Homo sapiens: one gene and its partners. The protein of the gene in region 2 interacts with the protein of the main gene of each other region in a biochemical or structural test. Each region holds a gene or a part of one and is shown on either strand. Other genes may lie near its edges.

Evidence for each region.
Region 1: the proteins of WASL (region 2) and ACTR3 interact in a test that uses a peptide from one of them, tested with the Homo sapiens proteins (one study listed by BioGRID).
Region 3: the proteins of WASL (region 2) and PSTPIP1 form a complex in vitro, tested with the Homo sapiens proteins (one study listed by BioGRID).
Region 4: the proteins of WASL (region 2) and ITSN1 form a complex in vitro, tested with the Homo sapiens proteins (one study listed by BioGRID and IntAct).

Annotation. Positions count from the first base shown.
Region 1 is NC_000002.12:113,956,068-113,963,102, forward strand, and holds the end of ACTR3 (actin-related protein 3), read left to right. Parts: intron 1-1,292; coding exon 1,293-1,388; 3' UTR 1,389-6,529; downstream 6,530-7,035. UniProt on the Homo sapiens protein: ATP-binding component of the Arp2/3 complex, a multiprotein complex that mediates actin polymerization upon stimulation by nucleation-promoting factor (NPF).
Region 2 is NC_000007.14:123,745,984-123,753,902, reverse strand, and holds the start of WASL (actin nucleation-promoting factor WASL), read left to right. Parts: upstream 1-4,899; 5' UTR 4,900-5,168; coding exon 5,169-5,285; intron 5,286-7,919. UniProt on the Homo sapiens protein: Regulates actin polymerization by stimulating the actin-nucleating activity of the Arp2/3 complex. Involved in various processes, such as mitosis and cytokinesis, via its role in the regulation of actin polymerization.
Region 3 is NC_000015.10:77,026,109-77,033,143, reverse strand, and holds part of PSTPIP1 (proline-serine-threonine phosphatase-interacting protein 1), read right to left. Parts: intron 7,029-7,035; coding exon of another isoform or gene 6,972-7,028; intron 5,345-6,971; exon of another isoform or gene 5,293-5,344; coding exon 5,230-5,292; intron 4,591-5,229; coding exon 4,492-4,590; intron 3,616-4,491; coding exon 3,570-3,615; intron 2,643-3,569; coding exon 2,563-2,642; intron 1,965-2,562; coding exon 1,866-1,964; intron 847-1,865; coding exon 750-846; coding exon of another isoform or gene 716-749; intron 283-715; coding exon 192-282; intron 1-191. UniProt on the Homo sapiens protein: Involved in regulation of the actin cytoskeleton. May regulate WAS actin-bundling activity. Bridges the interaction between ABL1 and PTPN18 leading to ABL1 dephosphorylation.
Region 4 is NC_000021.9:33,897,500-33,900,395, reverse strand, and holds the end of ITSN1 (intersectin-1), read right to left. Parts: 3' UTR 535-2,896; downstream 1-534. UniProt on the Homo sapiens protein: Adapter protein that provides a link between the endocytic membrane traffic and the actin assembly machinery. Acts as a guanine nucleotide exchange factor (GEF) for CDC42, and thereby stimulates actin nucleation mediated by WASL and the ARP2/3 complex.

The DNA of each region.
Region 1 (7,035 bases), on a different chromosome or scaffold from region 2:
TTTTATTGAGATGAGGTCTTACTATGTTGGGCCAGGCTGGTCTCAAACTCTTGGGCTCAAGTGATCCTTCCACCTCAGCCTCCCAAAGAGCGCTGAGTTTACAGGTGTGAGCTGCTGCGCCTGGCTGAAGCTTATGTTTAAATTTATATATATATATTTAAGATAGAAGAGTCCATCAATACTTGGAGAAGAACAAAGCAAATTCCTTTAAATTGTATCTCAAAATAATAGGAAACTTTGTATATATGTGTTTGTAGTATTTTAAAAATTGGAAGTAATTTAAATTTAATTGGAAGTCATTTGAATTTAATTTTTTTTTTTTTTTTAGCTTGCTAGACATTATTTTAGAGTGACCATTTTATACTATGTTTTAAAGTTTATCTGTAGGGAAAGTTCTGTTAAAACTGGTAATTTAGTCATCAGAAGGTCCTTGTTTGTTCTGTTTAAGTATTTAAAAACATTAAGGTAAAAGTTAAGCTTCATTGCATAGAAAGTATGATGTTTTACACTGAATAAAGGGAATTATTCTAAGAATCCTGTCCCCAAATTAAAATGTCTTTAAAGCCCCCTAAAAAGGTGTTCTAGTGTTCTAATACCATTAACCTAGGAAGTATTGGTGCTTTGTTCTGGTAGTGCATGCAATATTAAAATGAAGGAGCTTTTATCTGAATTATTGAATAACTGTACAACTTTGGATTTAAAACCATTTCCAACATAAGAGGTGAAAGTTATTTTTTTCCTCAATTTTAGTCTTCTTCAATTGGGCCATATAACCTAGTTGAGTTTGTGACTTTGCCTTGAGAAATGAGGTAACACAGCATGGAACAGTCTATCTTTTCCAGACCTTGAATGAGGAAGGCAAATGATCTAGACATTTCTTAGAACTAGACGAAAAATAGTCATAGCATGACTAGGAGTAGTTTTATCTGTAGTTAGGCGAATGCCGCTTCTTTACATTATTGGTGCAATGAAAGTATGGGAAAGTCTCAACAGAACAGACTGGACATTTGAGAACCTTCCATTTTTCAAAATTTCAGAATCCTCGCAGCAGGTGTGTGAGACAAGGATTGGGGACAGGAGTTAATTGCTCTTTTGGAGTTCCGATAAAGATTTATAGCTGATTTTAAGTCATGGCTGCTAGAATTTCTAAGCTTTCATGCCATGAATGGACTAATAATAAACATTTTAGACTTAACATCTATTTTAAAGCATCACTCTTAAAGTTTATTTCAATATACCTTCAAGATGGTAGATTTTTGACCCTTATAAAAATACATATTTTTTGTTTTCAGCCTGAGTTCTACCAAGTATGCCACACCAAAAAGGATTATGAAGAAATTGGACCTAGCATTTGTCGTCACAATCCAGTGTTTGGAGTCATGTCGTAAAATTGGCTTCATAGTTATTGGGGTTAGGGAGGTGGGGAAGAGATAATCTTTCTGATTACCTGTTTTGTCTGGATGGCTGGTTTTGAGGTTTTAAACCTGACTTGAAATAGTAACACCAAACATGATTATACAGGAATATTTTAATAAGTGTATCACCATGCAGATGTAGAAGAGAGCGAAAGTGATTGTGTTTTTCTTTAGATTGAATATTTGAATCTTATGTGTAACAAAAAGAAGTGGGTTTTAGTTCTTTCTGTGCCCTGATATTTTGTATATTAATGAATTATCCAAGATTCGATGGGATTTATCAGTGTGTAGATAGCTCTATAATGCTTGAATTGTACACTTCTAAGTGTGCAGTGCAAGAGCTTGTTTATATTTCATACTTTTTATACTTTGAGGAAAAAAAGTCAAAGAAAAATTGTATTTGAGGGAAAAAACCATGACCAAGTAAAGGATAAATTCAAAAAATAGCCTCATGAGACTTGGCATACACACTCGTGGGATTCCAGTTATTATGGAGTGCTTCCATCCCTCTCCACCCCTTCCCCCCAAAAGGTTTTCTTTGCAAGTGCTTTTGGAACTAAGAGCTAGTATCTTGGATTAACTGATGCCTGCTAGTGCTTTCTGATTACTCGCATTCTGTTTCTTGCTTTAAAAGAAGAGTAAAGACAAGAGTGTTGGACCAGTATTGCAGTTCTGTAGTGTCATTTCTTATAAAAAACAAAACAACAACAATAATTTATCAAAATTGGCATATTTAAAGCCTAACATTCTAATAAAGGCACAAATTTCTTTTTAATACTTGTTTCAGCCTCTTTAATCTCTTTATAAGTTAACTAATAAATCTATTTTCTTCAGACTTCTGCAATAGTTCTTTAAAATCACAACAGTTAGCAAGCTGACTTTTGTAATGTGCTCAATACAAATACTTGTGAACTTTTAATATGTTGAGTGCTTTCATTTTGATAACTGGATCTCCATTTGATATTTTCATTTGTATAACTCATTTGCAGTCTGAAAATTTTTTTTAGTGCCAGTCCCTGAACATATCATTGAAAGTTAATTTTCTTTGCATTTTAAAATATCTGGATTATGAAGAAAAAGTGATGAAAATAAATTAAAACTGAATTACCTTTTCTAATGTTTTTTTTTTTTAAGTAATGTAATTCTATTTTGTTTTTATGTATGTGATATCTGTTTCTGTTGAGATTTGGGAGTTATTGAAATCTCTGTAATGTGTATGGTAGAAAATTTCTTGTGACCTTAAAATTTTACCAGTTATTTATAGAAAGAGAAAATGGGAAATGTTTTATAGGCTTTTTACTAGCAGTATCAGTGAACACTTGAACTCCATTATTCATGAAAATAACACGTTAGGATTGGAATACGTCTATTCAAAAGTGAAAGAATATAAAGTGTTTAGTTTTTTGTTTTTACTCTAAAGATAGAATTGGGGAGTAAACTTCAGTTTTTGTTTAGAGTGGATCTGAATATTTAAAATCCTATAATAATTTTTGTGAATCTTCATTCTTTGAGTATGGGATTGTAAAAGACAAACTATATCCTACAGTAGTATCATCATCAGTATCAAAGGTCTCCTTTTTTTACTTGGAAAAGTAATTCACAAACATTATAAAAATACTATTCAAACAGTACCAAAGAGTAGATTAGCAAAAGTAAGTTTTTTTCCCTAGCCTGTCTCATTTTTCCATCATTACACAGACTACTTGGAATGTCTTAGATGTCCTTGTATTGTAATTTTCTGTGTAGGTAGAAATAAATGTAGCTTTCTTATTTTACACAAATAGGAACTTACTGTATATACTGTTCTGCACTTTGCTTTTATTAAAGATCTTTTGATAAAGAACTATATTGATAAGCAGTAAAGATGTCATGCTCCTGGCCCAATAAAATATTGTTAGCATTGTCATAAATATGTCTTTTCCACCGGCGATGGTTGGGTAGTTAAGTGAATAAGCTAGAAAGACATGTTTATAAAGCTATTTGATGACAATCTCAGGCATATTTATACAGAGATGTTCTTAACTGTTTGCTACAAAAACATGAAGATCAAAAACTTTCTTGAAGCTTACGCTTAACTTATTTGGGGAAACAAAACTCCAGCCCTTCTTGTGTATGTTCTGATATCCCTTTGCTCTACTTTTAGAGGAGTGAACCCTAATAGGATGGTAGCAGCATTCTTGTTTCTTTATATCTCTCCTCTGTGATTGTATACCGTTTTTTCAACTTAAAGCAACTTCAGCTGGAAATATGTAGAGGTTGGCCAAGGTGAACTAAATAGTCTGTAACATTGATTAGATATCAAGCAACGTGAGCATGGTAGCAAAAGCACTAACTGAAGCCAGTGATTTAATTTTTAATTCTGATTCTGATAATTGATGATATAGCTCCTCGAACTTTGTTTTTTGTTAAAACTTGGAAAATATATTTGTATTATTTTGGACAAATTATTTGAACTCTCTGGACCTTGATTCAATTTATATATAAGGTAAAGGCATTATACTGGATTATCCTGCAATTTCTTTGAGTTGTTAGAATATAATGTAGCTTATTAATAGCAATATTAGCAGTGTAGTAGATTCTGACTGCAAAACCTAGCCTTTTCTATTGATTCATTAGTGGTAGTAAAGGTATTATCTGATTTATCCTTTTTAATAGGCAGTGCTTTGATCAAGTGGGAAATAGTAATGGACAAATAAAATCAATGATCATTATCTAACTTGATGCCTGCTTTTCAAAAAGTGAGCAAATTTCACATCTTCACCCTTAGACATTAATTCATGGCACCTACTATAAGTACTCATCCTCTTCTTACCTATCTTCTTTTCTATAGGAGATAAAGTGGTTATTCAGACCCCCCAATACAATTTTTTGGTTTGTTTTCACAGCTACTTAAAAGATTAAAATAACTATTCTTGCAGATATTTCTAGGAATATTTTTAGAAATAATATGAAATACAGGGATAATAGGCCAATTATGATCTTTATTTTTAATTTCTACAGAAAAGTACTAGAGAATATATCTATAGAAACTTCTTTCAGATAACCCTAAAGATGATACTAGAATGTTTATAAAATTATTGAGAAGATTATTTGTGTTATAAAGCTTATTTGTACCATAGTAAAGGATGTTTTTGTTCCTCTTCATTCTGGGCTAATCTGTCAATACTGAAGTCCAGTCTTTTCCCCCTTTTCTTACCAGCTCAACCTTGATTCCTGTGACCCATTCTTTCTGATCTTTCGTAGTTCATAGTCACCAGGCATGAGTACCTTGGATAGCCCTCTGAAGTCTGTTACCACCCAGATTTCCAACTCGGGTTAATTGGTACTAATTCTATTAGCTGGTATAAATAATCCAAAATCTGTGCAGACTCTGGGAGCAAAATGTTCTACTCAGTTTGGAATACTGTGCCTTAAAATATATTTCATTGTAACAGCACCTTGTATATATAGTTGGCCAAGGACAGAGTTGTTACAAGTTACGTGGAACTTTCATAGCAAATCTTGACAGTAAATACCTTGTTCTTGTATTAGGTCTATATCCTGAATTGACCTTTAGCAAGAATCTTTAGATCTGCTGGAGGGCTGGGATGGCTTTTGGACTTCAGTGAAAAAGAATTTCTGCTACTCATTGTTGATAACGCTTCAGTACTGTATAAATGTTTATCCTTTTCCACGTAATTTGTTTTCTATGATATGAGAACTTTTATTATAATTTGCCTCAGTCTTGATAGAATCTTAACAAAAATAAAATCTGTGGTCGTCTGAGGTATTCTCCATGCTATAACCCAGTTTAGCTGATGCATTTGGAGCTTGGGTGCTGAAATTAAATATAACCTATTTGAGTTAAGGATTTATTACTAGTGCTCCAGTGGTCACAGGAACAATAAAAAAGGAACAACGATAGAAATACGTGATCTAGGAAAGAAGGCAACTGAAAAACCTGAAAGAAAAAAAATGAAAGATTAAAAGTATACGATATTCTATTTTGATTTAGCAATTACTTGTTTTCTAGTGTTCTGTCAATTTTTGGTGACTTTTATAATTACATTAAAACTAAGATGCTGAATTAAAATAAAGTTTCTCTTTTATTCAAGCACCAACATTCACTTATATTACCTATATATTGCATCAAGTTTTGAGCCTTCAATCCCAGAAGCATTGATTGACTGTCTACTGTGGTTCAAGTACTGTGCATAAAGATGAATAAATATTCTGTCCTTGGCTTAGTCTAATAGTAAAGGCACTCTTAGAGGAGGGACAAATATTTTGCCTAGATAAGATTTGAGAGATAGTAAGTGCGGAATTTCTCTTCATAAAAATGGTAGTGTTAGTTGTTTAGAGGGAGAAGTCCAGCTATGTAAGGTGAAAGTGGGGCTTATAAAAGTGGATCTATTGTTTAAAAATTAGTACTTTGCTCCTAAAATTTTTACCTAAGTGTTACATCCAACAACAGATGAAAGTAATTCGACAGTAGCATCTGCTTTATTCATTTCATATTTCCAGTGCCTGACATATTGCTTGGCATATAGTAGTTTAGTGGATGTGTTTGATGAATGAATGAGTAAAAATTATTTTTCATGTTAAAATAAAACTTTGAATTACATGAGTATACAACTTTTGTTCCTTCAAAATACCCATATTTGTCAAATATGACCGAATTACGACTTTTTTTCTGTTCCACTAGTTTCTACCTTAGAAGTGACATTCTGCGTAAGGTAGTGGGGGATTACTAAGTGATCATGACTTTTCTGAAGCAGGTCTTAAATAATTATCTAAGCCTTCAGTCATTTCAAAATCTCTGTAGTGTAAATGATCACAGGCTCTAAATCAGATTGTTGTACAAGGTAATTGACATGTCCTGAAATGTAACATTCAACATTAACAGTAGAAACAGGCCTCATTTCTCCCTCTGGCTTTTATTGATCAATTTTGATATTGTCCAGATCCCATGTTAAACCACTTGATTTAGAGATGACTTAATTCTAAACTTCCTCCATTTTTAATTAATAAGATTCAAGGTTGCAGTAAATTGTTAATCTTATTTGGAATTATATTAGAAAGTCGATATCGGAATTGGAACCACACATCTTTTTCTTATTGTGGGTACATGGGATCTTTCCCAAATAAATTCCTGAGCAACAAGAAAATCTGAGACTTGTTTTAAATGCTAAAATGATTAGTTGGAATAATGTATACATTCATGAGATGACTAAAGCACTAGTGGGGTAGTTTCTACTGCAGTAGACTGATTTTTCTTAGCCCAAACCTTGAAAGATGAATGTTTTAGTAGATGGAGAGTAGGTGGGGATGATATTTTAGATATGGCAGAAGCAACTTGAGTTACAGCAATTGGGGAGGGGATTAGAATATTGTGATTAGGAGAAGTGAGGAGAAGAGTGGGAGAGAAGACTGAAGGATATCTGACACCTTCAAACACACCCTCAAACACAAACATTGGCTAAAAAAGTTGATGCAGTTCAGGGTGAAATCACACACATGATTGACATAAATAACATTGTGGAAAAGTGACTTTGCAAAGACCACACAGGTAGTTGCAGAATAGAACTTACTGGTTATAATTTTTTTGATATTTTACTGAATAGCATATGGTTTATTAAAT
Region 2 (7,919 bases):
GAAAGATAAAGGGAAATCCCAGGATAGTAACTCAATAAAATTCCAGACAATAGCCATGTAGCAACAGTACAGATTAATATGGGATGATGGATGGCTTTGGGAGACAGGTCTTTGATTAAAATTAGTGAGTCTAATAGATTCCTGATACACTTGATTATGTGGAAAATAATATGAGGAAGGACTTTATAGTTCTTAATATAGAAGAAATAAAAGAAATAAAATTTAAGCAAATTATTGAGGGGGGTAAAATCCAACAAAGTTAAAGTGGTCCAAGAATGTAACTTCTGTTTTATGCTGTTTTAAGTTTTGTACTACTATTTGATTTTTTAAATTATGTGCATTTATCATTTGTATAAAAATAAAAATTGATTTTAAAAATGTTACATGGTAGCAGAGACCATATCCTTGACCCCAATAATTTCAATGTGGTAATGGGGACATGTGGCATCTTCAAATTTTCCCAAGTATCCAGCCTGCCTACTCATTTATAATGTAGATTGACCTTGAGAACATTACAATAAAGAAATCAATGTTGTTCTCTCTCATTTGGAATAATAATAAGCCATTGAATATTCATTAAAGTTAAAGAGCAGCCAGAAAACCATAAGCAGCATCCTGGGAACTATAACATACTTAGCTCTTCAAATCATTTCTTGATTACAGGTAAGTACTAGGTATTTGGAGACTAGGACATATAATGGTAGTAACTATCACTGGTAATTTTGTAGCATGAATAAGTGTTCAATTTTCCACTAACTTCAATAAGAAATCAGAATGATTTGTAAATAAACTATTTATTCCTAAAAAAGAAAGCCCCAAAGAGGTTTGTAGTTAAAATGAATTTAAAAAGGAGAGGCAGAAAAAAAATGGTGTGCTAGCTTACTTTTCAGAATTTAGTTGATGAAAAAGAAAACAATTAACATTTAACTTGGGATAACATGTACTAGAATAAATTCTTGTAAGCATTGCCATATGCAACATTTACATAAAAATGTGCAGATATTTTACAAGACGAACATTTTAGACACATGACATTTCTGGAGGTTGCATGGGAGAAGTAGCACTCATTGCCCCTGCACTTTTTCTGCAAATCCAGATTTGCAGTATTCAGATTTGCTGTTGTTCTGTCTCTATAAAATCAGTTCTGCCATAGCCAAGCAGCAATTATGGCTACAATGGCTGCTGAATGCCGTGTGCTTTCAGCCACCTTTATATTCCCCCACAGTAAAGGGTGTCACTACATTTTAAATTATTAACATTAGCAAGGGGAATAGGGTGTTTCAGAGGACTTTTAACAGTACATAAACAATGACATTTGTAAAGAAGAAAAATATATAACAAAGAACCGTAACAAGAGAAGCTTGCAAAGTACCCATAAGGATAACAGCAGGAATGTATCTGAAAATATGCTCTCATTTCCATAATAAGCTACCCTAATGTTTTCTGTTAAAATGAGGGCTTTACCTTAAAAGATCATACCAAAGAAAGAAGAAAATGAAGTACTAGAATAGATGCTAGTTGAGGTAAGGAGAGTCAAATGGAAGAAATTAAATGTAAGAATTGCCTTTTTTTTGTTATATTCATATACACCGTAATAAAGCTTTTTTTCACAGCCCTCTCCCACTACTCTTTCCTGTCTTCAAAATAGGTTGGTGGTCTACAAGCTCTGAAAGCTGGTATTTCTAGCATATGCATTTTATATGTATATTAAGATAAAACCCCTAGTCTTCTTAACAGCGCTTACAAACTTCAAGATACTCTGTTGAAGGGAAACAGAATGCTTATGTCCTGGATAAAATCCAATCTCTCAAACTGGGTAAAAAAATTTGAGATAAGGAAATAACTTGCCAAAGAAAACAGAGAGAAAAGATGTCTTGTGTTCTGCCAAACAGAGGATATGCTATCAAGAATGAAAGAAAGGACTTGCTAAAACTTTTGAAACAAAAACAGCCAGTACTGCTTGGTCTCAGGATGAGTATGGAAAAATAGAATCCTTTATGTATGGTAAGGAGGGAATCCCCAAATATTGCTTGTTCACAGGCTTAAATGAGTAAGGAAGTCATATTTCCAGTGAAATGTTCATGCTTACATTTTCCACATCAAGAGTTGGAAAAAGCCCAGAGAAAAACAAAAATAACAATGGAGGGTAGAAGACAAGAACTTAAATTGCAATTTTGTGGACAAAGGACTATACTAAAAATTTGGAGAAAAATTAAAGAAAGGTTGGACCTGAGGAAAAAAGTCTACTGTGGTCATCATTTTCCATCTCCAAGTCTAAAGAAAACAGAAAAAGGGCAAATAGTAAAAAGAAAATTGCATTTAGATAAGTCATAAAATTTCCTGAAAGAAAAGAAAATCAAAACAATAGATAGTCTAGGCTAGTAAGAGGTTGTGAAATGATTGGAACTCAATAATTCTCAGAATGAGATAAATTCTTGAACGCAGCTACTGTCCATTCACCTATCATCTCATGGCCTTTTTTTTTTTTTTCACAGCCCTCTCCCACTACTCTTTCCTGTCTTCAAAATAGTTTGGTGGTCTACAAGTTCTAAAAGCTGGTATTTCTAACATAAAATTTGCTAATCTTTCAGTTTTTATTAAATTAGAAGCTAATAGGATTCTATCTCTGGATTTACAGTTTTAAAAAGTTTTATTTTGGCATACTGGGATATATGTAGCCTATTTGATATAATATATGGCCTAATCAGAAATTCTGCTATCAAGTTCTTCACTATATTTTTGAAAAAATATGTACAATTGTATATTTGAAGGACAGTTTTTGAAGAGTCAGAATTAGAACAAAGGTAAGAATACATATATTAAGTCTTGATCCCTTAGCTCAGGGAAAGCAGAAAAGACCATAGGCAAGGACTGTCAATGGCCGACAACTAATACTTGAGTAACCACTATGTATCAGGTACTTTACATGTGATACCTTTTTTTAATGTCTTATAATTTTAGTTTAAAAAAATTTTAATACACAATAACTGTACATATTTATGGGGGTACATAGTGATGTTGCAATACATATAACATATAGTGATTAGGGTAATTAGCATATCTATCATCTCAAAAACTTATGTCTTTGTTTTGGGAACATGCAATATCCTTCTTCTAGCTATTTGAAACTATACAATATTGTTAACTATAGTCATCCTACAGTGCTACAGAACACTAGAACTTATACCTCCTATCTAGTTGTAATTGTGTATTTTACAACTTTGAAGTAGGTGTAATTATCCCTATTTAGACTATACCTGTATGAAACAGAAATTATTTTCATTTTACAGATGAGGAAACAGACGCAGAGAAGTAATTTGTCCAAAGTCCATAGGGTTGTAAGACTCATAACAAGAACTACAACTTGGGCCTATCTGAATCTTATACTTCTGGTACTATACTTGTTCACAGGTTTGAAAAGAGCTTTAATTTCTATTATTTCTCAAGAATTTGTAATGCTTTCTCTTGTCACTGTGCTTTCAACTTAGAGGAGTTGCAGTTTTGATAAAAGACAAACTGATTTAGCTTCTAGGTTTGTTAAATATGTAATTCAGAGGCAACTCCAGGCTTATATTTCTACGACTGCTTTCTAAATCTAATTATTTTATAAATAGTCCTGTTGCTTTAATTCACTTTTTACCCTAACATAATTAATCAAGTTTAACTTTGAAATCTCCATATTTTATGTGAGAACTCCCAAGGCTATCCACTTTTATTTTCCTTTGTAAATTTATTGTTGCTCAGCCTATTTCATTAATGGCAGCTTTAATTATAATATTTTATTATATTTTCAAAGTGCATGATAATGGTTTACCAGTCTGGTTAGTACATCAGAGATTTCTATTGGGAGCTATCAGAGATGTTAACATCCAACAATTTTACCAAAGTGTAATTGTTATAGACGTCTTAACATGAATTTACGCAACAAAAATATGTTTAATGTGGAGAACAGTGAGATGCATATTTGATAATTCACTGCAGTCTGCATCATCATCTCTATATTCCAAAATTTCGTCTTAAGCCGTTTAGTATTTAACTTACAGAAGAAAGGGGGTTATCTTAGATAACTTTTAATATCCTAAGGTATTTTCCAATTCACGATACAGGGAGAAAAGAAATGTGTCCAGGCCCTTAGAAGAAAATACTTTGAATTTAAATGTGACACATACATTAAACCCGCGTGACACGCCAGGCAGGCGGTGGAAGTCAAGTGCATTTGTTTTTGTTTCATCCACCAGGGCGATCTCTTTCACAATTCTGGGAGAGGCCTGTTTGTTCCTCCACTCCCACAGCTGAAGTTTGGGACAAAGTTTGAGAAAATCCCAGGCACCTGCGGCTCCTATCGAAGCCGGCGAGGAGCACAGGGTAGAGCGTCTCTTCCCAGTTTTCAGTCTTCAGATCGCAGGCCTCTCGGACCCGCAGAGCGAGCTTCACGCTGCAGCGCTTGAGAAATAAGAGCTATTCCAAGGAGGGGCCCTGGGTCCTCACTGACGCTTCGCAAAGGTGTACGTCCGCCCAGGGAAGGCCGGCGGCGCAGCGACGGCGAGGAGTCCCCATCCATCTTCTCTTCAAGCAGCAGTAGCTGGGTTCGGGTACCCAACCGACGAGCCGAGACGCCAGAGGCCAGAGTACGAAGTTGGAAGCCTGCGCCCCAAGCCAACCGGGATTCCACTTAGCTCCGCGCGGTCCGCGCCTCGGCCGGAAGGGGGCGTGGCTTCGGGCCCGCGCCGCGAGGCCCGCCGCCGAGTGGGGGGGTTTCTCCCGGGCCGCAGCCGCGCGTTTCCGGCGCGCTCCCCCGCGCCCTCCGTCCTGTGGTCTCGCCCGCCCCCGCTGCCATGTTGGATTGTGCGGCCGCCGCCGCCGCTGCGGGAGGGTTGGGGGAGGAGTTGGGAGTTTAGCGCAGTCGCCGGAGTGCGAGGACAACGACCATCCGGCCCTAGCCTGGCCGGGCGGGTGCCGGGAGCTTCCCTTTCTCAGCGCGGCGCGAAGGTGGCTCGCCGTCAGCGCCTGCTTCCCTCGACCTCGTCCTCCTCCCCGCTCCGGAGGAGCTGCGAGATGTGGCGCCTCTGACTCCACTTCTCCCCGCCCCTGTCACCGAGAGGGGGAACGAGCTCTCGCCCACTCGCCGGAGGAGACGGCCCTGGACTCCCAACCCCGCCGGCGAAACCATGAGCTCCGTCCAGCAGCAGCCGCCGCCGCCGCGGAGGGTCACCAACGTGGGGTCCCTGTTGCTCACCCCGCAGGAGAACGAGTCCCTCTTCACTTTCCTCGGCAAGAAATGTGTGGTCAGTGGACGAGACCCGCGTCGCCACCCGTGACATTACCTCACGGGCCCGGGCTTGGGGGCCGGGAAGTGGGAGTGGGGAAGGAGGCGGGAGCGGCGCGGGCCAGGCCTCCCGCCAGCCCCGGCCCCGGCCCCGGCCCCTCGTCGGCGCCCTCGCCCTGCTCCCAGGGTGCGGGCCGTGGCGGTCGGGCGCCGCCTTCCCGAGCTGCTGGAGAATAAGGGAGTGTCACCTCCGCAGGCCTGTCCTCCAGCCTGGCCGGGCCTCGGCCCGCGCCCTTGCTGCTGGTTAAAACTTTATTCTCAGGCCACAAGGGGATTTTCTTGCAAGAGCCGCTTGGTCCTAGAATCTGGGCCCTTGTTCTAGCTCTCGCTTCACCTCTTACTGCTTGATCTGGGGGTACGTTCCTTAACAATGCCAGGTTTGAGGAGTGGATAGGTCGGGGAAGGAAGGTGGTTTTTAATCTCCCATTAGGATTCCAGGAGGGAATGAAGTCGAGTGCAAGAGCCTGGGCTCTCTTCGGATTAGAGAGGGTGCAAGAAATGTTATTGCTCTTCGTTAAAGAGAAACAAGATTTATTTCTCTAGCAACCTTGCCTAGGCCTGGTTTCTACTCTCCTTCCCACTGATTTTTTTTTTCCCCCCATTGGTGGGAGGGGGTGCTGCTCTCCCCGCAGCCATGCGCAGGGAAACCTCAATCTCTGGTAGCTCTTGGCTTTTGGGGCCGAGAATGATTCTTAGTTTGGTGCTGTGCGGCCAATTCCAACCCCAGATGGCCGGTTGGGAGCGAGCAGTTCTGCTGTGGGAAGGGGAATGTGTGTTGTTGACGGAAGCATTCATTACATTGGCTGCTGGCAATTCTGGGGGTGGGGAGGTTCTGCTCTGTGGTGTAGGCCTTGTCGGGATCATACTGCGGTGACTGGGTTGAAGTGTGGTTTGTTGAAATACTGGCTGGATCCCTTTCTCTCCACTTTGCTAGCACCTGCAGAGTATGTGCCACTGGAACCCAGAAAACACGGAAATTTCAACAAAGCAATACCATTTTATAACTCCTTTAAGTAATATTAGGTATGCCAAACCAGATTTCACCTGCTTCTTTAAGAAGTTAGGATTAGACAATTTCTGGAAAGTTATTGGATTCATTGTTAACTTCATAGGAGTCCACCCTTTGTATCTTGTGCCATCCGGTTGGAGATTGAATCGTTCCATTCAATTTCAGATGTGTTTCATATTTCGGAATTTAGACCTTAGAGAACATTGAGTTTCCTGATTAGAAGGATGAAACAAGAGGAGTGGCTCAAAACGAGAATTTTGGGTAACAACTTTAAGCCCCTCCCCATTCACACACACTTTTTTCAACAAATGAGAAAACTGATCCAGTGAGCCCAAGTCATACAGCAATTTAATAATGTAACCAGAACTAGAAAACCAGGACTCCTCACACCTAGTCCTATCCCATTGTACTTTGCACTACATCATGTTGTTTTAGAAGGGTATTTTTTTTTCCTGTTACTGATTTATTTCTAAAAGTGGTGTTAAAGAAATAACCACTTTGCCTTTTTCACCAAAAACTAATTAAAATACAAGATTCTTAAAGCACCACTAATGTTTGCATATGCTCAGTTTAGGAAAATCTTCAGCACTTTGAATGTTAGTTACCTCCAATGAAAAAAATTCAGTTGCTGGTTTAGTAGATTAGCTATGTAACCTGTATCAAAAAGGAAGTAGTTGTGCTGTGTTCTACATACCAGACACATTAACTTTAGGCAGAAAGGACATTACATTTATACACAAGTATACTAATTGTTCTGTGCTTACCTGTAGTTTTACTGGTTTCGAAAAATGGCAGATGGGGAAAAATACTGTGATAGAGAAAAATGATGTTGCACATTGGTTAGTGTAAGTGGATTGCTGAATAGGCTCTCAGTATTCAGTGCTTAATTTCTTTATGCCATCTTTTATTAATCAACTGTACCTTTTGAATTTGTCATTTAAAAACCACACTTTCAGTTGTCTGCTTTTGTGGGATGAAGTCGTTGCAAATACTAATTTCAATATTTGAAGTCCCTAGTTAATAGAGAGTGAAGTAAGAGTGATATTTTAATTTTTGAAATAATCTTTTCCTCCCTTGGCTGATTATTCAGGTTGTTTTTGTCCTTTAAAACATTACTGAAATATATTGTCTCATAATAAATCCAGCAGTAAGATTTACAGGTCAGACCAAATGTGTTAGGCAGAAGTATACTCAGTACTCAGAGCTCTACCTAAGAATTCAAGAAATGAAACAGAAGCAGTTATAGTCGAAGCTCTGGAGGAGCTTCATTTCTTCTTTCATTCAACAAACATGTATTGAATAAATGTTGAGGTCAAAATCTGGAAGGGCTGATACTTGTCCTCAGGGAGCTTACTAGGTCTAAAAAGGGAAACGTGTAAACTGATAAGTCAGTGCTTCAGAGTGATGTGTAAGAGGCTGCTTTTCACAGTAGAAAATGCCTTGGCTTTGTAACAGCAAATGTGGGTTCAAACTGGGGGTCACTTTGGACAAGTTTCTTGAGCTTCCTATCCTAGATTTGGTTTTCTCATCTGTAAAACAAGGATACTATCTCATGGGGTAGTTGTGTGGATTAAGACTGTGTAT
Region 3 (7,035 bases), on a different chromosome or scaffold from region 2:
CTTGGGCTGAGGGTTCCATAGGCTGAACTGAGCCTATCTTGTCTCCACAGAGTGCCCAGCACCTAAACTGGGCACCAGATACAGACACATAGTAGGTGCTCAGTGAACGAGGAAGGGCCAGGTGCAGAGGAGGGGCTCGACCCACTTCCTGGCCCAGCCTTAGGCCCTCCCTCCGTCTGTCGGGGCCTCACCTCTTTATCATGCCGCAGGACGGCTGTATGCCAGGGCTGCTGGTCAGCGGGGTGACCTCCCGATCGTAATAGTTCTGGTAGGGCACCGGAGCTGCAGACAGCAAGCCGTGAGCCCCAGGGCGGCCCCCAACACCCCATTCTGGCCCTGCCAGACTCAGCTGGGGCCCTACATTCCCAATCTGGCCCTGGCCCATCCTGGTGCCTGAGGAGGTGCCTGTCTTGCTCCCATGAGAGACCCCACCGTAGGTACCATCAAGACCTAATATTCTGGACCCGTGATCCAGTGGAACCAAACAGGCGGGGAGTGGGGGCCGTGGGAGCTCCTCACCTCAATCCCCATCCCCACCTCTTCCTCTGAGTGCCATCATGCCCTTAGCTTTGCCTGAGAGGAGGCAGCAGGCCTGGGACCCAACTCCCCACAACCCCTGCTAGGGCTTCTCTGCCCTGAAGGGAGCTGTGAGCTACCCCAGCCCGGTCCTGGCACTTGAGGCTCAGGGCCGGGCCTTCCCAGGGGCTCAATGCACCTAGAGGCTGCGCTGTCCGCAAGCCGGACCTCACCGGGGGGCTCTGTGCCCGTGCTCTTGGCCTGGATGAAACTGTCGATGTCGGCGTCTATGCTGCAGCCTTCCAGCGTCAGCCGCACTTCCTCGTAGAGCTGGGGCAGGAAAGAGCAGAGGCCGCAGCCCGATGCCCACTCTGCCCCTCTGTGGGCCTGAACTCTGACCAGCGGCCCCCACCCACCGGCCTCCTCACAGGCCATTGTGCGCGGCTCGGGGTCTTTGATCCTGAGGGGTCACGGCCCTGGCTGACAGCTTCCTGTTTCCTGAACACCTTCTGTGTGCAAGGCCCTGTGCAAGGGACTTAACTCACACCTGTCCTCTAAGGTAGACCCCACTTTTCCCATTGGATAGATGAGGAAACTCAGAGGAGAGTGACTTGCCCAAGGTCACAGCGAGAATGCAGCACAGCCAGGCCTTGGGGCTAGGAGAGTGGGTCCAGAGCTCGCCCTTCTACCTCAAGGAGGCGAGGAGGCAGCAGGGGGCTCGAGTCACTTGGGCAAAAACAACAAGAAAATCAACCCCCACAGCCCCGGACAGGAGCGTCAGGCAGGAAACACAGCAGGCAAGGGGGCCAGGGCTGCCCGGGAGAGCCGTGTGCTGGGCTGCATCCATCCACAGAGCTCAGGGACCCTGGCTGGGGGCCCTCTCTGCTGGGGAGGACCCACCCAGCAGGTTGGGCTCAGTAAGGGGAACCAGGACACCCTGGAGATGTGGGGAGCAGAGGAAGGACTGCGCCTCGGCTCCTGCAAGCACCAGGCCTAGAGCAGAGCAGCCACGGTCCTCCAGCTTCTGCCAACCTCTGACAGCTGTGTCCACCTCCCCTCCCATCCCCGGCAGAGGGGGCAGGTGCTCTGTGGCTCTGAGGCATAAGGAGGAAGTCAGGGGAACCACAGAGTCATCATCTTCCAGGCAGAGAAGCCATGGCCCTGTGTGGTACTGAGCTCCTGTCTTGGGGTTCTGGGGGCAAAGGCTGAGCTGCTGAGGCCTGAGACCCCTGGGGCCAGGCTTGGATCACAGAGGACCAGGTGCTTGTTGACCGGCTCAGATGGACCTGGGTGCTTTGCTGCCTAGAGGCTGCCCTACCTTACCCCACACCAAGGCCCTCAGCCCCCACCTCATCATCCTTGACACACTGCATGGAGAGCTGGTTGCTGTGCACCCACAGGGCGTTGCGGAGAATGGTCAGCCGGTCAAACTCTTGCAGCTGAAAGGCCTGGGGGCAGTGGGAGGGAGGTGAGCAGTGAGGAGGCGGCTGCAGGGCCCGGCCAGGCTGGGCCCCATTCACAGCTCAGCCGGAGCTGACCAGGCCAGCCCTCTCTGCTGGAAGCCCAGTCCAAAGGAGAGAGTGCCCTGGGGTCCCCATCCCGACTCCGGGCCAGCCCTGAGGCTGCAGGGAGGGAGGTGGAGATGCCCAGGGGGTCCCTGCCCCAGCCTCCCTTCAGGCTGCACCACACCGAGGCAGAAGGGTAGTGAGAGGGACCTCGGACGGGAGTCCTGAGCCCTGTTCCCCAGGCCCTGTCCATCGGCAGCACCCAGAGAGGCTGTGGGTTTAGTCCAAGTCCCAGTTTTGGCTTCAACAAAGAGGGTGGAAGAATGCCTGCCTGCAACGAAGGGGCCCAGGACTCAAGGCCAGGCGACAAGCAACAGGGCCAGGGCCCAGCACAGGCCTGTGAGCAGGAGGCTGAATAAACGAGTGAGTAACAGGTACCTTCCCCAACTGCCTCACTTGGGCCCCTTTAAGCAGCTGGAGTAGGGATGGGCGTCTCACACTTCCCAGCTGGGGAAAACGAGGCTCCACGTGGGCCACTCACCTCACAGGTGGTCCGGTGCTCCTGCTCCCACTCAGCCCGGACCTTCTCCAGCTGCGCAATGCTCTGCCTGTATACCCGCTCTGAAAGCGCAGGCAGCCTCAGGGAGGGCCCTGACACGAGCTCCTCCACCCCTGTACTCCAGCAGGTCCCATCCTGGATGCCTCCTCCCACTGGGAGCCCCGCCTCCCCCATGGGACCTGCCCTAGCAGATGGCGGGGCCTCATCTGAATGCCCGTCAGGGCCACCCACGCTGGTGCTGCTGCTGCTCCCCAACTGTGCTCTGAGCTGCCTGAGGGCTGGAGTGGAGCCTCATATATGCAAGTCCAGAGTATTGGCCTCTGGGCATCTCTGGGCGCCCCACCTCACTTTCCAGAGGGGAAACTGAGGTTCAGAGAAGGCAGCTGAGAGGGCGCTGGAGGAGGGGTGGAGTCCCACAGGCTTGGGTCACAACTTCTGTGCCCAGATCTCTGGAGGTCACCTGTCCCCCAGCCGAGGGAGTAGCTGAGTCCCAGTAAAGGCAGAGCAGAAGGGAGAGGCCTTCCCAGGGGAAGGGAGGAGGGTGGGTGCTGTGTCTGGTGGGTGGGGCACCAGCAGGGACAAGAGTGTTGGTAGGATTCGGGCATCAAGTGAAGGACAGAGGCCCAGAGAAGGCTATGTGCACAAGTCCTGGGCTCTGAAGCCCGATGGCCTGGGTTCAAATGCAGCTGTAACCTGGGGCAAGTACTGGACCTTTTAGTGCCTCTGTTTCCTCATCTGTTAAGAAAGGGAACAGTAACAGCAGCCACCTCGGAGGGCAGCTGTGAGGACTGAACACATGAAGCGCCAAGAAGGGCTGGCGAATGGGGGAACACAGCGTTTACTTTGACGGCACATATCTGGAATGAGAGCGCCGCGCCCATGATTGTGCAGCCAGGGGGAGTGTGTGTGTCCCCAGGGTGAGGAGGTGTGTGTGGGGAGTACCGCCCAGGCCTCCGCCCTGGTCGGACGGGGCAGCCAGGCCCACATACCTGCCTCGGTGGCCGAGTCCTTGCACTGCCTGGCTTTGTTCTGACTCTGAGGAAACAGAGGGGAAGCAGCGCTAAGCCCCTGCCCCAGGAGCCAGGGCCCACCCCAGCAGACCTGAAGTGACTGTCAAGCTTCCCCGGCCACCCTGGGGGGAACATTCAGGAGCCAACTATGGGCAGATGCCATCATCCACAAGCAACCTCCGCCCACAGAGGACCACAGGCTAGCTCCATGGAAAGAGAACGAAGACAGGAACCGAGCCCAGGAGGATGCCTGTGAAGAGTGAGACCACAACCCACAGGAGAGGTGCAACTACTGCTGAGCCCCCTGGCTGGGACTTGGGCTCTGGCCCCTGACTGACTGCCCCCAGCTCACCCTCAGGCCACTTCCCTCTCTGGGCCTCAGCCTTCCTGTCTGTGCAATGAGTGATGTGTTTCCTGGGCTCTGGGAGCTCTGATACCCCCACTCTGGCCTAGGGGCCACAGCATCAGGAGCATGGGCTCTAGACCACCTGAGTTGGGGGTCCCTTTTCTGCTGCTTCCTGGCTCTGAGACCTTAGACAAGTCACTTACTGTGAGCCTCAGTTTCCTCTCTGTGACATGGGCCTACTGAGCCCTTCTCCAAGGTTGTGTGAGGGTTGGCGTCTGCTCTCATCACCCTGTGGGCCTCAGTGGGCCTGCACCGAGGAATGGGTCCCTGAGTGCCGCCTGACGGTGGCAAAGGGGATCCAGCTGACCTGCCTGTCCATGGCCTGAGGTTCTCTCCAGGAAACCCATTTCACAGATGGGGAGATTGGGGGTCAGAGAGGGCTAAGCAGCATCCCCAGATGCAGATCTTGCCTGGGGGTGTCTACGGCACCCCTTCCTTGCCTCCCCCACTGCCCCCAGCCCTGGGCGACCCACACGGCCCAGCAGCCCAGCGCACCTTCTCCACCTGCTTCTGGTGGCCGTTGGCGCTAATGCGCTCGAAGGCCTGCTCCGCGTCGTCCGCGTCCCGGCACTTCTGCTCGTATGTCTTCTTGGACTGGGGGTGTGGAGGGGCGTGACTTGGGGGCTGCACAGCCCTGTTCTGTGGTCCCCGGGAGTGAGGCTCCCTTAGCCCAGCCTCCCTTTTTCCCTGGCGAGGGTTGCGGGTGGAGTGGGGGCATCCTCACCAGGGACAGGGATCTGGGGGTCCGGAAGGAGATAGAGAAGGCGTGGGGGCTGCTGGTAGTCCTGCTCTCAGGCCCTCCCCACTGAGGACAGCGCGGCCTGCCCCGGGCCCCGCCTCCTGGGCTGTGCTCTTCGGCGAGGGCACGCCCCTCGCCACGCCCCTCGCCACGCCGCGCCCTCTTAGGAGCCCCTCTCCCTTCCTGTCCAGCGTCTCGCAGGATCAAGCTCAGGGGTCCCTCCTCCCTCCACCCCTGGAGTCCCCAGCTGACTTCATCTGCCCTTCATTCACGAGCCCCACAAGGGAAGGGCCCGGGACCATCCCCACGGGGCCATAGCGCCCAGCACGGGCCCAAGCGCCCCGCAGGCTGGTGCGCCCAAGGCCGAGGTCCGAGGACCAAGGCTGAGGTCAGCCTGTTCCAAATGCCCTGCCCGGGGCCACAGCCCAGGATCGCACCCTGAGACCTGCGCTGCTCCTCGAGGGAAGGCCGCGGCCCCAGGCCCTGGCGCTCACCTCCATGGCCTTCTTGTAGAGCGACAGCTTGCTCTTCTGGACCCGGTCCATGACGGCCTCATACTGCAGGGGACACGAGGTTCTGAGCCGAGGGCCGCGGCCTCGGGAGGCTCCCCTAGGCCAAGAGGACGGAGTGTCCCTGGGATGAGGCGCAGCACCTCTCCTGGCTCTGGAGAGAGGGTGACAGGCTGCCCTCCCTCCCCCAGAGCCTGCTGCTTCACAGTGACCCTCACAATGGAAGGCCACAGAGAATCACAGGGCATGGGTGTGCCGTGAGGTCCTTGCTGCAGACCTTGGCCAGAGCTTCGTCTCCAGCTGGGGAGTTCCCACCCCAACACACGTGCGCACACAGTCGTTCATCCTGCATCCCTGAGCCTCTGCAGGCATCACAGTCGCTCACACGTGTGTGTACACTCTGGCACACACATACATGCAGAGTTCCACATTAACTCGGAGGCACACAGGCCCCATCCCTAGCTGCCCACACGCATGATCACAGGCATTCCTGTGCACACCCACAGATGCCACTCACAAGTACACACTCCCACAGTCACCCACACACAACCACAGGCCACATGCAGGCACAGTGGCCACTGGGCCCCTGTGCCGAGGTCTGGGGCCAAAGCCTCCCCTCACCTCCCAGGCTTCCTGTTCTGATAGAGAAGGCAAAACAGCCAGGACAGCGACTGGGTTATGAGGTAGGAGGAGAACTGAGCCAGTTTGTGCCTGGGGTCTCAGGGGAGGGGTTCTGTGCCAGCTGGGAGACCAGCGAGGCACAGGCACTCACACACACACAGCACAAAACACCCAAGTGCACAGGGCTGGACAAGGACACATGCTCACAGGCATATGCAGGGGAGCGTAGGCACGTGTGCACCATCCTGTAAGCACATGTCCTTGCTCTGTGGCACACGCACATACACACACAGGCTCAGACACACATGGCACACACTACAACACAGCGCTCTGCCTGCGGGGCCCTGGCCACTTGGAGAAAGAATGCTCTGTCCAAAACAGCCTTTGCAGCCAGTGCAGCTCCTCTGGCCACAGGAGGGCCCAAAATAGCAGGGCCGGGGTCCCTCCTTCCTGGCAGGTTCTCTGCAGGCTCTGCGGGCACGTCCCAGCTCAGAGAGGGTGCCTGCTCCGGCACCTCAAGCCTGGGCTGGCTTCTGGGGACCCCCTGTCTGCTCAGAACCCCACATTTAGAATCCTGAAAGCCCAGCTGGCAGATGGGCAGGTGGCACGGGCAGCCACGCTACATTTCTGCCAGCAGAGCTGCTAACCAGAGCTGGAGCCCTGTCTGTGGAGACTGAGGGGCGCATGGCTTGGGCTGAGCTCCCAGCACTTGGGAGGTAGACATATGTGTCCCATCCTGTGAGAGGGAAACTGAGGCACAGAGATGGGAAGTGGTATGGCCAGGACACCCAGGCCTAGCCTGGCCCCAGCCTCAGGTACAGCTTCTTCCCCTTCAAGGCTCAGTTGTGACTTTTCATTTTCAATTCTTTGGCCACTTCACAACGATCCTTCCTCCCCAGGCAAGAAGCGGATCTGTGTGCTGCCCTGCCACCCTGTGCAGGGCACCACCCTCATCACTAAGGCCCTGAGAGGCTCAGCCCCCATCCTCACAGGCCCAAGCCCAGCCTCCAGGCCAGTCTGCGTCCTGCCTGCCCTCCAGGGAACCTATATCCAACTTCAGCCCTGCAGCCTCCCTGACAAGCATCTGCCAGCCTCTGCTTACACACCTCCCATGATGGGGACTTCACTTCCATGCAGTCACTCTGTCTCGGGACAGCCATGCCCTACATA
Region 4 (2,896 bases), on a different chromosome or scaffold from region 2:
GGACTTATTTATAGTCAGTTAAATCAGTGATGAAATAGGTAGGAATGGCCTTAAAACCAGAACAGGAGGAAACAACCTAATACAATTCAGCGTTGGGTTTTATGGAACGCAGAATTATAGATCACCCAAGTGCTGAACACGTGGAGTTACGTGTGTTAGAAACTTCTTCCTGGAAATTCAGCGACCCTTCTGAATGTCTTTATAAGAAAATCAGCTTTTTGCACCGCCCTCTCAACCCCACCCTCAGAATTTCTTATGCTGTACAACACAAAACTTCTCCTGTTCTCACAAAGACTTCGTACACAGAAATCTATTTCTGCTTGGTGTTAGCTAACATTTATCTGAAGCCGCAGGACAGCTGAAAGGGTTGTTGGTTGGTTTTGTTTTCTAGGTTTATTTCTGCACAATTTTCCTTGCACAGCTACAATCTTATCTGTGGGAAGAGGAAGAGACACCATTTGCAGGGCTGTTAGCTTCCTGTGCTCTCAGAAAAGAGTGAAGCAGAAAGAACCCAAAATAATCCACTATAACAGATTGGCTTTTCTCCTTTTATTCATGAACTATTTGAATTTAAACCACACAGGTCAAAATGACCAAAGAGTTGTTTTTTGTTTTTGTTTTTGTTTTTGAAGAGATTGTTCTTTTTAGGTTCAAGATACACAGGAAGAGCAATTTGTACTGATGTTGCTACTGGTTTAAAGAAAGGTCTCAGTTACCATCATCTTAATCGGTAAAATTTAACATTTCACACATAATAAGTTGCCAAAGGAACACTCAAACAGCAAAAACAAACCTCAGCTTCTTTCAAACAAAAAAGAAGAAACAATGTTTTGGCCCTGCTTCATCAAACCTTTAGACAAATACGTAAGTCTACAATTTATAATAGTGTCTAGTAATTCTTAGAATTCCATTAACATTACATATCAGACAATATAGTCTCTCTTTTATGGAAAATTAAACAGTACCATTATTTGGCAACAGAAGTATATTACAATCAACAGCACATCCATCAAGGGGCGGGCCTGGTCCTACCCCTGGGCAGGGCTGTGAGGGAAGCAACATGCCACCAGCACTGTGGCCCGCTTGTCACTGGAAGCACAAGGAGCTCACGTTCTGATGGATTACATTCTTTTCCAAACAGGCAAAGGCTATCTGGGAGGGTTCGCTAGCACTCCTGGGAAGGGAGGGCCCCATGTTCTAGCTTTTCTTGTCCCCAGACTTTTTTGAAACAACCAAGGCCCAAGGGACAGTTGACTGGCTGACTTGTTTCCACTCACAGCCCTCTTGCCACCCCAGCCAGAGGGCATCGTTCTAAGGAAGGAGAGTCAGGGCCTGTTTGGGGTTGGTAGACCAGAGCTCATCTCCTCTGCTGGCAGGCCTTAGGTGGCCTTCCAAGGCTGCGCCTGAACAAAGAAATCTCTGAACAGCTCCATCTTTGGGAATAAAGCCAGTTATGGACCACATGGACAGTGCCTCTAAGTGATTTGCAGATTATTCATGCACCTAAATAGATTCCAGGAAGCTTCCAGAAATCACAGCTTCCCATACTCCTGAAGTCAGCAGCTTTACTGGTTCGGGCCTCTCAAAAAAGGGGCTCCAGTTGCTGGTTGACAGCATTAAGATGCACGCAGCCTGTTCAAAGAAATGTTGAAAACCTAACACATTCTTCAGATGTCTTTTCAGACCACAGGCCCTCAACCTTCCACCAGCGGTGTCACCCCCAAACACAATGCATTCAGATCACCAGAAACCAGCTCTTTTTGTTACTGCAGTATTTCCAGGCTGCCAGGGGAGGCTGGACTCCTGGGGTTGCCCCCTCCTGAAATCATTTCTGAATGCCTTTCTCAGGGGTTTAGACATTGAGTTTCACAGAATCCTCCTTAGGTGGCCTAAGGGGCACTTCTGGTGGCCAAGTACAGAAAGTCTGTGCCCCAGAAGCAGCCTGGACTTCTGATCCTTTTCTGGGAATGCAGACGGGAGGAAGGCATCTTCCCCCTGGGGTCTCCATGGAAACATGGGCATCCAGAAGCCTGCCCCAAAACGGCTTAACTCAGAAACCCTAAACCATCCATCCACCCACCTGGCTATGCAACAGTTGAAGACAGTGAGGATGCATCAGGAAATTTCATGGAAAACGCAAACGCTAATTAGGGATAAACTGAATCAATCCAGATACAGAAGTAGAAAGGGCGACCTGGAAGTCAGAGAGTGGCCTCTCTAGTGGGATAGCTGCGTCAGCCCCAGATCCCTAACAAATCCACTAGAACCCAAGGAAGCCTGCGTGGCACATGGATCTGATGAAAAACAGGCTCCCTATCCTCTCATCCTTCCTGACACAAGTACCCTCTCAGATATGTGATCTGCAAAAATCCATTTTTAATGCAACACCAAGGTCCCATGCGAGGTCATAGCTACAGGATACTTTTCATTTGATCACGCCACCATCCATTACACTGAAATTTATCATATTTCCTGCAGGAAAAAAAATGACTCATTTGATTTCTAACATATACAACTTGGAATTTTTTTTTAATATAAGAAATTTAGTTGAGTTGAACCCAAGTAATCTCATTAAGCATTTTCTACTCTTGGAATAGGTTTTAAATTTTTTTCTATAGTTTTATGCACTTAAATTAGATTCCTAAAATACTCTCATATACATACAGAAAAATAATCTCTCAATGACAAATCACATTTTACAATAACAAGTTAAATATTTTTGACTACAGAATCTGTGTTAGTTTATGCAACATTTAACAGCATGGCCTCTTACATACCATATATACATTTAGTCATGGCCATTCCATAAACATACAGCAGAGATTTCATGAGGAACATGAAATGAATACAACCTTTTCCCTTTATATAGTGGGAGTTCGCCTTTTTCTTAGCTGGA